Linked DNA regions of Homo sapiens: region 1 is linked to region 2. Evidence: fine-mapped expression QTL. A gene starts in region 2. The other region holds a variant in brackets. All regions are shown on one strand. Distances are between the middles of the regions. Region 1 holds the start of LINC02878 (long intergenic non-protein coding RNA 2878). Region 2 holds the start of SLURP2 (secreted LY6/PLAUR domain containing 2).

Region 1 (5,356 bases), 930 kb before region 2:
GGCTCACAGGGAGTGACGGCTGCTGGCCCCAGGAAGGAAGATGCTCCTTACGGGACACCTGCTGTGAGCCCCTTCTGTCACCCCACCCCCGCCTGGGTGGTGAGGAGGCCAACAGGGCAAGATGCAGAGCCTCCCGGCCCCTCACACCCCCATGGGCTCCTCACCACCATTCTCTCCCCAGGCCTTTTCTGTGGACCTGACCTTCTTCAGCGACCCAGGAGGCAGGAAGGGAAGCCTGAGTGTTAGAAGGAAAGACAACTAAGAGCAGCAGCCTGACCGCAGCTGAGCACGGTCGTGCTCCTCCCTGGGGAAGTGCCAAGGGAGGGACCCCCTGCTCTACCCGGAGCCCTGGAGCCCTGCTAAGCAGGGTGGAAAGCCTGCAGCCCGGGGGGTACCGCGACTGTGGCCCAACCATCCAGTGTGTGAGCCCTGGATGATGAGGCCACCAAGAGCAAGGCAGCCCGCTTGGACAACTGACCATCATCTGACGAGGCAGCGCATCACCCACGTCTCTGCTGTTCACATTTAATCCTGCACAAGAGCGTCACAAAGTGACAGCATTGTGAGGGACTAACGACCAGGCACAGGTGACCCTGGACGCGGCCAGTGGCTTCCTGCAGGGCGCTCAAAACCCAAGTCCTTATGATCCGCCGCATCTACTGCCGAGACACCAGCTGCTCCGTCCCCACCTGTGCTCAAGCACCTGAAGGCCCTTCCAACGGCGCCCGCTGGGCAGGGGACAAACCAGACACGAAACACACATGCGCTTTTACCAGCCTGGACTCTGTAAGAGAAAGGCACCCCCATATCCCCCCTGGGGAGATTTCCACTTATCCTGCAGGGCCCTCACTGCCTCACCGGGCTCTGCCAGGGCCTGCCCCGCAGGGGCAAGTGCTTTTCCTACACAGGGTCTGTGGGCCAGGACAGACCCAGAGGAGCTTCTGCTACGGGCTGAATGGTCACTCTGAAATTCCCATGTGGAAGCCCTAGGCCCGACGTGATGGTATGAGGAGGTCTCTGGGAGGTGATTTGGCTTCGATGGGGTGATAGGGGTCATGGGATCCGGGCCCTCACAAGGAAAAGGTGACACCAAAGCCCCTCCTGACATGAGGATGCCTCTGAACCAGGAGGCGCTCGCCGGAAACGGACCCTGTTGGCACCTCTACCTCGGACTTCCAGCCTGCAGAGCTGGAGAGAATAAACCTGTGTTGTCTGTGGGGCTGCCGGTGGTGTCCTGGTAAGGCAGCCCTGTGACTCCATGACCGACAGCTGCTCTCTACAATCTTCCGTGAGCACGAAGAAACTCATACTCATGCTGCAAATAAAAGATTTGGGGAACTTTTAAGCACACCAACCTCCCGGCTTCAACAGCTGTCAACATTCAGCCAATACTGTTGTGTCTTTCTCCTCTTTATTAGAATCGTAAAGTACATCCCAGGCGCCACGTCATTTCCCCACAAAGACGTCCAAATGCATCTGAGTGAGGATTCCTCCGTAACCCTGTGTCACCATCACCGCTAGCAGCCAATTCCGCACCCCCACCCGACTCACGGCCCACCCACCCGACTCACGGCCCACCCACGCAACTCACGGCCCACCACGCAACTCACGGCCACCCACCCGACTCACAGCCCACCCACCCGACTCACGGCCACCCACACGACTCAGTCCATCCACCCGACTCACGGCCCACCCACCCGACTCAGTCCATCCACCCGACTCACGGCCCACCCACCCGACTCAGTCCATCCACCCGACTCACGGCCCACCCACCCGACTCAGTCCATCCACCCGACTCACGGCCCACCCACCCGACTCAGTCCATCCACCCGACTCACGGCCCACCCACCCGACTCAGTCCATCCACCCGACTCACGGCCCACCCACCCGACTCAGTCCATCCACCCGACTCACGGCCCACCCACCCGACTCAGTCCATCCACCCGACTCACGGCCTACCCACCCGACTCACGGCCCGTGCCCACATTTCCATGATTGTCTCAAAAGTGACTTCGCACTCGGTTTGCTCCTACCAGGGTCACACACAGCCCCCTCGGCCTTTCTGCGTGCCCGTCTTCCCACAGAAACGTCGCCGTCTGGTGGCATCTCCAGCCGGATCTGGCTCAGGGCTTCCTCTCGGTGTGTTCAACCTTCTCCTCATCCCCCTATTTCTTGTAAACTCGTTTCTGATTCCAACATTACATATGCATCTGTTGGCTGGAATTTTTTTTTTGAGACGGAGTTTCACTCTTACTGCCCAGGCTGGAGTGCAATGGCGCAACCTTGGCTCACCACAACCTCCACCTCCCGGATTCAAACGATTCTCCTGCCTCAGCCTCCCGAGTAGCTGGGATTTCAGGCGTGAGCCACCACGCCTGGCCTGGCTGCAATTCTTAAAGAAAAACAGGCAAAAGCAAAAATAATTGGCTAACCTGAAACACGGCAGTGTCCCGACCCATTCCCACGGGGGTCTTCCCTTGGGAACACCACTGGCAGATTTTTATTTCTGGCTGGATAAGCAGACACCTTAAGTTTAAAACAAAGAGGTCACCTCTTCCCCCACGAAATGCGATGTGGTGGATATGGCCACCTCACTGCCCTGAGACCCAACTTGATCTCCCAACTCCAGGTGCATGACCCAGGCTCTGACCAACAGAGCTGGGTGGAGGCCGTTCCTGCAGCACTGGGGGTGGCCCTGACCTAACCACCACTCCTAATCCTTGAATGAGGTTCAGTATTACAAAGGCTCTTGTTTCTACGGCCCAGCGCAGAGGCTGCAGGAGGGTCTTTGCCTCTGTGCAATGCTCACAGCTGCCTCGCCCAAGACAGAGACAAGAAGGGAAGCCAGACCGGGCAGCCAGCATGGGGTGCAGAGCCAGGAAGGAAAGGCCCAGCAGACGGCGACTCGGGGCCAGGGTGGAGTCCCTGAGCCAGACGGCTGTGGGCACCAGGCAGGCTTCTCCGCCTCTGAGCCCGGCCTGGCACGTGGCTCCG[G/C]GGTCGCGCACACTCTCAGCACATCCCCAGGATGCCCGGCGCCGGGGCGCAGCCCCCGCCATCTCCAGAGCCCCCGCCATCTCCGGCGTACCCATGGCTCTGCTTCTCCCACCTGGCAGTTTTCCCAGTAAACTTCTCGGGGGACTGGGGAGCTCTGAGGACTAAGAAGGCTTCTCTGAATTCAGGTTGATTTTCCAGGCTGAAGAGCAACTTCTCACTGCAGCTCTCCCTCAGGACCCAGTACTCCCGCAGAGGCGCAGCACCCCACTCTTCGGGCGCCCCTACACCTCCCCGTGCCTGTGAGTCCTCTGATGCCGCGTGAAGAACCCCAGGTGACGGAAGCCTTTCCCACAGTGGCCGCACTCGTAGAACCTCTTCGTCAGGTGCAGCCTCCGGTGGATGCTGAAGCCCTTGGGCCACCGGAAGGACTTGCCGCACTCGGCACAGGTGTAGGGCTTCTCCCCGCTGTGGACCCTCTGGTGGTGGCTGAGGTTCTCCTTGGTCCGGAAGGCTTTGCCGCAGTCCGCGCAGTAGAACGGCCGCTCCCCGGTGTGCACCAGCTGGTGTCTGAGAAGGTTGGACTTCTGCTTGAAGGCTTTCCCACAGTCGCCACACGAGTAGGGCCTGTGCTCGGTGTGGACCTTGCGGTGCTGAGCCAGGCGGTCCTTCAGGCTGAACGCCTGCCCGCAGGCCTCGCAGCAGAAGGGCTTCTCGCGCGTGTGGTTCTTCTGGTGGCGCTGCAGGTTTGAAGCCCACCGGAAGGTCTGGCCGCACTCGGGGCACTCGAAGGCCTTGGTTCCCGTGTGCACCGTCTGGTGAGCGAGCAGCCGGCTGTGGCAGCTGAGCGCCTTCCCGCACGTGCCGCAGATGAATGACAGCTCTACTGCGCGCTGCTTCCGGCGCTCTCTGCGGCCCGGCCGCCGCCCACAACGCTGCGTGAGCACCTGACACGGGAAAGCCGTGGGCTTGGCGTCTGTCCTTTCTGGAGCAGCTCTGGGAAGCTGCCCGTCATCCGTGTCCAGCCTGAAGCCCTTCCTAAAGCTGCTTCCTTCCCTGGCTCTTTCTCGCCGCACGTGGGTTTTCTTGTGAGCCCAAGCTGGATGATCACAAGGTCTCTTGGGGTCTGCAGACTTCCTTGCCCCTGTGGAAGGAACAGACACCCTTACACAGAGCCAGTGGCCCACAGCCAGGCAGTGCCTCCAGCAAAGCCCAGAGGAGGCCGGGCGCGGTGGCTCACGCCTGTAATCCCAGCACTTTGGGAGGCCGAGGCGGGTGGATCATGAGGTCAGGAGATCGAGACCATCCTGGCTAACAAGGTGAAACCCCGTCTCTACTAAAAAAAAAAAAATACAAAAAATTAGCCGGGCGCAGTGGCGGGCGCCTGTGGTCCCAGCTACTCGGGAGGCTGAGGCAGGAGAATGGCGTGAACCCGGGAAGCGGAGCTTGCAGTGAGCCGAGATTGCGCCACTGCAGTCCGCAGTCCAGCCTGGGCGACAGAGCGAGACTCCGTCTCAAAAAAAAAAAAAAAGCCCAGAGGACCCTCCTGCTGTGTGCGTGGACTGGCTTCCATTGACTCAGCTCATTCCACATGGTTACGAGTGATCAGGAAAACTCGTTCAAAGAAACACAGATGAGCCACAGGTATCAACAGCGGAAGCCAAGATGAGCTCAGATGCTTCCCCAGCCCCGGTGGTACGCAGGCCACCCGGCACTGCTGACGTGAGGGAGAGCCGACACATGCCTGCCAACCAACAGAAGCAACTGGGCCAAGAGAATGTCCTTTCACCCTGTCCACGCCAGCAGGCCCCACTCATGCGGGTGGAGGTGGTGCTAGGATGTCGTCTAGAAGACGGGTAGCTCCACCTGATTCTCAACCACTCAGCCTCAGAGCCATGGCTCCCTTCAGCCGGGGGCTCCACACACCCGGGGATGCGACACCTCCCCAGCCGGGGGCTCCACACACCCGGGGATGCGACACCTCCCCAGCCGGGGGCTCCACACACCCGGGGATGCGACACCTCCCCAGCCGGGGGCTCCACACACCCGGGGATGCGACACCTCCCCAGCCGGGGGCTCCACACACCCGGGGATCCGACACCTCCCCAGCCGGGGGCTCCACACACCCGGGGATGCGACACCTCCCCAGCCGGGGGCTCCACACACCCGGGGATCCGACACCTCCCCAGCCGGGGGCTCCACACACCCGGGGATCCGACACCTCCCCAGCCGGGGGCTCCACACACCCGGGGATGCAACACCTCCCCAGCCGGGGGCTCCACACACCCGGGGATCCGACACCTCCCCAGCCGGGGGCTCCACACACCCGGGGATCCGACACCTCCCCAGCCGGGGGCTCCACACA
Region 2 (5,356 bases):
CATTCTGGGAACTGGACAGGAGTGGCTGCTTGGGCGGGCTCTGGCACCCTGGGATGTTATACATTCTGGGAACTGGACAGGAGTGGCTGCTTGGGTGGGCTCTGGCACCCTGGGATGTTATACATTCTGGGAACTGCAATCAGCCACTAGAGAAGTCGGAGCTACAGGAAGTGACCCTGGGGTGGGACCTGGGGACATGGCCAGGTCAGCATGGGGACACCCGGCTCCAGCAGGAGCTCTGGTCTGTCCTGGGGTCTTTGGGGGCAGGGCTGCGGCCCTGGGCAGGCTTCCTCCAGGCGGAGGTCCTGGGGAAGTGGGGGAGCCAGGCCAGCTGCCGCCTCCCCCACTATGTAGCATCTGATTCGTCATCTCTCATGAAGGCGATTTGGTTCATAACTCTGAAACTCTGAAAAAGGTCAAAAGAAGCAGAGAGGCCCTCGGTGGATATGCCAGCTTTTCTGCCGGTGCTTTCTCCCACTACTCTGGGTGGTCTGCTCTCCTCTTCAAACCTCAGCTCGCAGGGAGGGCCTGAATCTGCCAGCCCCTCAGGATCTCCTTCCCTCTGGGCCCTCCCCAGCCTTAAGGAGCCTCCCAGACAGAAGGGTGGACAGAGCCACCTGGGCAGCCCGAGAGACACACGGGGGTCCTCCCTGTGGACAGCCCTGCCAGCTTCCGCCCAGCCCTGAGCTTCATTTGCATCTTGAGGAGTAAGGGGTGGTGAAATGGGAATGCTGGTCTGGCTCAGCTGGTCGTGGGCATAAGTGCCCGCTGAATGGATGGCATCTCTCCCTCCTGTCTTATGTTCTGGGGTCCAGGTGCTTCCCAGGGCCATGCCCCTGCTGCTAATGCTTGCCCTAACCCTTACCCTAACCAGCGTCCAGCGTCGTCTCACCGAGCCGTAAATAAATCAACAGATTCGCATTGTCTGCGCTTCTCTCCAGCCCCACTGCCTCGGCCTGAGCTCGGGCCTCACCTTTCCAGCCTGGCTGGGCTGGCACTCCAGGCTGCATGCAGCCACTTTCCTGTCTACCCTACCCGGTCCAGGTCCTGGACTTTTCTGGCCTCTAGGCCTGACCTGTCCTCGGAGCCAGGCACAGGGAGGGAGACAGGCAGGGCTCCTGGGGCTTGCTGAGAGTTGCTCCCAGTTCCGTGGGAGAGAGGCCACCCCCCACCCAGCACCCCTGAGGGGCATACAAACCCCTGAGGAAGTCTGGGTGTGCGGGGTAAGGGAGGCGGGAACTCCCCCAGGACCCCATCCCACCATCTCTGACCTCTCTGCCTACCTGGTTCCTGACCCCAGCTTCTCGACTGCCCCAGGAAGGAGGGCCTGGATCTGCCAGCCCCTCTTTCAGGATCTCCCTCCTCCTGGGCCCACCTCCCAGCCATAAGGAGCCCCCGAAACGGAGGGGTAGACAGAAGCCATGTGGGCAGCCCGAGAGACACATAGGGGTCCCCGGGTTGGCATGGCTGACTGGCTACGGACAGGCCCTTTGGGGCCCCAGCCCCTGGCCAGCCTTTGGAGGAACAGCTGATGGCTCCCGCTCTCCAGGGTGTCCCTTCTGGGCTCTTACCTTATCCTTGGGGTCCCTTTTAGTACCAAGGGCCTTTCTGTCCCCCCTACTCCTCTGCACAGATCCTGGGGCGTTAGTCACAGTGTGACAATGGCCATGATTCCCTGTACGGATGACAGAGAGGTGGCTCACAACCATGCTCCCTCTGTGTTCTCCCAGCCCTGCGGGGGTCAGGATGGGAAAGCTCTGGCTTATTTGGAGGAGGTCTTGTCATGGAACTCATTCTAGGGTGGGAGTACAGATGAAGGCCTGTGGCTTCCACCCAGCCCTGAGCTTCATGTGCATTTTGAGGCGTAAGGGGTGGGCTGGTGGCTGGTGCCCAAGACCCTCCTTCCCACCAGACCTTCCTTCCCAGCCTCTGAGGGAGACCGGCCTGTGGCCGTCACCTGCCTGGTGCCAGGCCTTCCTTCCCAGCCACTGAGGGAGAGTGGCCTGTGGCCATTGCTTGCCTGGTGCCAGGCCATTTTATCAGATCCTCAATCCTGTCAGCCAGGGCTATCCCTACTTTATGGACAAGGAGAGATGGCTCATGAGATGACACCGGCCCGCTCAGAGGCCTAACCAGCGAGCTTTGGGGCCAGGTTGGCCCCTACCGCCCGGACCCCAGCCCGGCTCCTTGACTGAGCCCGGCTGCCTGGTGACTCAGACCCGCAGAGTCTGCTGAGCGGGCGAGGGCCAGGGCGGGGTGCCAGCAGGTATAAGGCAGCCGGCCAGGGCGCCGACAGCCCGACCTCACCAGGAGAACATGCAGCTCGGCACTGGGCTCCTGCTGGCCGCCGTCCTGAGCCTGCAGCTGGGTGAGTCCAGGGGCTGGGGCCACCTCCTGCTCAAGGCCCCCATCACTCTAGCCCAACCACCGTCCCTCCAGCCCTGGGCTGTGACTGCCCACCTCGGGAGAACCCATTCCTGTCCCCCCACCATCTACCAGGTGCAGCTTTCCTCCGAAAGCCTCCTGCGATCCTGCAGGTCCATCCAGCTCAGCCCCAGCCCCCGACACTGGCCCCCACACTTCTCAGGATGCACAGCCCTTGGCTCAAACCCCCCTCTTCCTCTGCCCAGCCCCCAGACCTCTCCAGTCCACCGCGACACCCCTCACACACGCACCTTCGTGCACGTGCACACACACACTCTGAATGTGCCCCCCTCCAGCCCTCTTGGGCCTGGCCTCCCAGCTGGTTTGTCTCCTGGGGCCACCCTCCCGGGACTCCCTCTTCCCTCTTGCCTGGGAAAACCAAGTCCCTCTGCTCTCCCATCCCCAGTTCCTGCTCCCGGGTCCTCTCCTCTGCTCCCCGCTTTCCTGGGTGATTTTACCCCCTCCCCATCCCCCAACCCTCGACCCCCGCAGTGCCCACGTCTGCTACGGCTGGCCCTGTCCCCCCAGCTTCAGATCCCTTGGCCCAGGGCCTTCCTGAGGGCTCCAAGGGGATGACCCCTCAAGCACAGCTGTGCACACCTGGCCTTGGCATCCCCCAGCAGAGCCTGAACGTCTTCTCTTGGCAGGGCATCTCCACCCCCACCCTGAGGCCTCAACAAAACCAGCTGGCCCCTTGATCTGCCGGTGGCCTGCACCTCCAAGCCCAAGCAGCCCAGCCCCCCAGGGGCCAAGCCTCTGCGTCCCTGGCTGTGGGTTGAACGACCTGGGCAGCCCCTGCCTCCCAGGCCCTGAATGAGCAGGGGGTGGAGCGTCGGTGAGTCCCTGGCGCTGGCTCAGGTGTCTCTTACATCCCTCCAGTCTCCATCCCCAGGGGCACCCTCCTGGCCTATGAGAGGCTGAGCCGCTGACCCTGAGGACTGCCCCAGGGTCATGAGGGCAGACCAGCTCTGTGCTGAAGGTCCGAGACACACAGGGGCCTGGGGACTCGACTTAACCTGGAGAAGGCCTTTGTAACCATCAGGACTGGACAGGCAGTCAGGTGGCCATCCAGGCCAGGGATGGCACATCACAGGAGCCTCTGCCTGGGTGCCCGGTGCCCACGGACTCCCCTCTGACCCAGAGGCCCTTCCCTGCACCAGGGCTCCTGGAGCCCTTCCTTCTGCTGAAATCCCACCTGCCCCTCGAGGAACAAGCCCCAAGCTGCCTCACTGCTCTTCCGGTTGGAGGACTGGCGAGCCTCTCTCAGGGGCACCTGCATCCCCTGTCATTGCTTGGTGTCTGCTCTCTGCCATACATGGACAGCACAATCTCCCCGAGGGGCCAGCCTGCTTCAGAGCCAGCACGGGGGTCCCCAGTGGGAGAGACCTGCCCCCAGCCATGCAGCTACACCCAGAGCCCATCCCACCATCCTGTTTGTCCCTCCATTATTCCTGCCCCCTCCCCCCCACCCCACCTCCCTCCTCCTCTCTATTCCTCCTCCCTCCTTCCCTTCCTTCCTTCCTCTCCTCCTCCCTCCCTTCCTCTCTCCTCTTCTCCCCCTGATCTCCCCTCCCTCCCGTGTGTCAGGCGCCAGTCTGAACACTGTCCCTGTGTCCTCACAGTCACCATCGAGCAGCCTTTCCGGTTTGGAGCTAACATTTTATCTGCTTCCCTCAGGATCTCATTGCTGAAAATCAAAAACCCTCTGATAAGGGACAGAATTATTATTTCTCTTGATAACCCAACCTGCAACCACCCCCGGAATTCATTCATTCATTCATTCATTCATTCATTCATTTATTCATTCATTCTGCAAGCCTCTCCTGGGCCTCATTAAGTGCAGGGGAGGGAGCACTGAGGAATGGGTAGAACGCCCTGCCCAGCCTCAGAGGCCCTCATGCTTGGGTGGGGGTGAGGAAGGAGCCCTGAGCACAATCACTTGGAGCAGGGACACTGATGCCAGCTGGGGCAGGATGCTGCAGTTCACGGTGGGTGTGTCAGAGTTGGAACCATTCACTCTGCCCTGGAAACCAAGGAGGCCTTCCTGGAGGGGGTGGCATTTGCACCAGGGCTTGTTTTGCCCAGAGGGCAGGAGGAACAGCAAGTTCAAAGCCAGGGAGGCCTTGGGAGCGTGGGCATGTGTAGTGGACAGGCTGGAGCTGGTTCTCTCCATGGCACCCTTGGGCACCCATATCCTCACCTCCTCCTTCTGGTGCCCCAGCCTCCTGCCCATCTTCCCTGCTACCCCCCACCCCAGCCAGCTGTGGCCTGTGGCTGCCAGTGTTGAGTAGAGGCGTGTCCGACTTATTGGCTGTCACTAGGTTGGATGTGACAGCCAAGGGGAGCTTCAAGCCACTTTGGTGGGAAGGCAGAGAGGGGCTTGGAGGCAGCTGTCACCACCTTTCTTTCTCGAAGGTGGGGTCTCAGCTTGCTCTCCGGGGCTGGTAGAGGGGCCAAAGCTGATGGCAGGGGCCTGCCCTGGCCGGAACTTCCCATCTGTGTCACCTTCTCCGTGGTGCCTCGATGGAGGATTCCGCCCACAGGACCCAGGGGTGACCAGAGGACTCTGGCCCGTGGCAGGGGCCTGGTGTGCACTGAGGTCTGAGGTCAGCTCAGTGCTGGTGCATACAGAGCCATGCTGTCAGGAACCCGGGTTTGGAGCTGGCACTGACTGGGGCTGACTCCAGCCCTTCTCCACCTTTGGCAACAGTGAGGCGGGGGCAGCCCAGCAGAGATGGGATAGGGCAGGCGTGGGCTCCTGTGTCCTGAGGCTGGGCTGCCTGGGGCACAGCTCAAGAGGAAGCCAGGGCCTGCGCCTGGTGCCTGTGACAGAGCAGCCCTCACATCCTTATGGCCACACCATTGGCCTTGTCACCCTGCAGGCTCCTATGCAGAGAGAGCAGGCCTGGGGCCAGCAGGTGTTAGGGACTCT

Evidence for each region. PIP is the estimated chance that this variant, and not a neighbour inherited with it, causes the effect. A credible set is the group of variants that fine-mapping cannot tell apart.
Region 1: its variant is the best candidate, but not a certain one, in a credible set for the expression of SLURP2 in sigmoid colon (GTEx, PIP 0.60).

The regions. Positions count from the first base shown.
Region 1 is chr8:143,692,450-143,697,805 of GRCh38, reverse strand. ZNF707 (zinc finger protein 707) reads right to left here. Exons shown (of 6, transcript NM_001100598.2): 6 at 2,421-4,135. The coding sequence ends at 3,276. It overlaps LINC02878 (long intergenic non-protein coding RNA 2878), which reads right to left and starts at 691. Exons shown (of 2, transcript NR_015445.1): 1 at 165-691. The variant G/C (reference allele first, on the strand shown) is at 2,995.
Region 2 is chr8:142,766,767-142,772,122 of GRCh38, reverse strand. It overlaps SLURP2 (secreted LY6/PLAUR domain containing 2), which reads left to right and starts at 2,295. Exons shown (of 3, transcript NM_177458.3): 1 at 2,295-2,368. The coding sequence starts at 2,317. All of the region lies in intron 3 of LYNX1-SLURP2 (LYNX1-SLURP2 readthrough), which reads left to right. It overlaps LYNX1 (Ly6/neurotoxin 1), which reads left to right. Exons shown (of 4, transcript NM_177477.4): 4 at 1-921.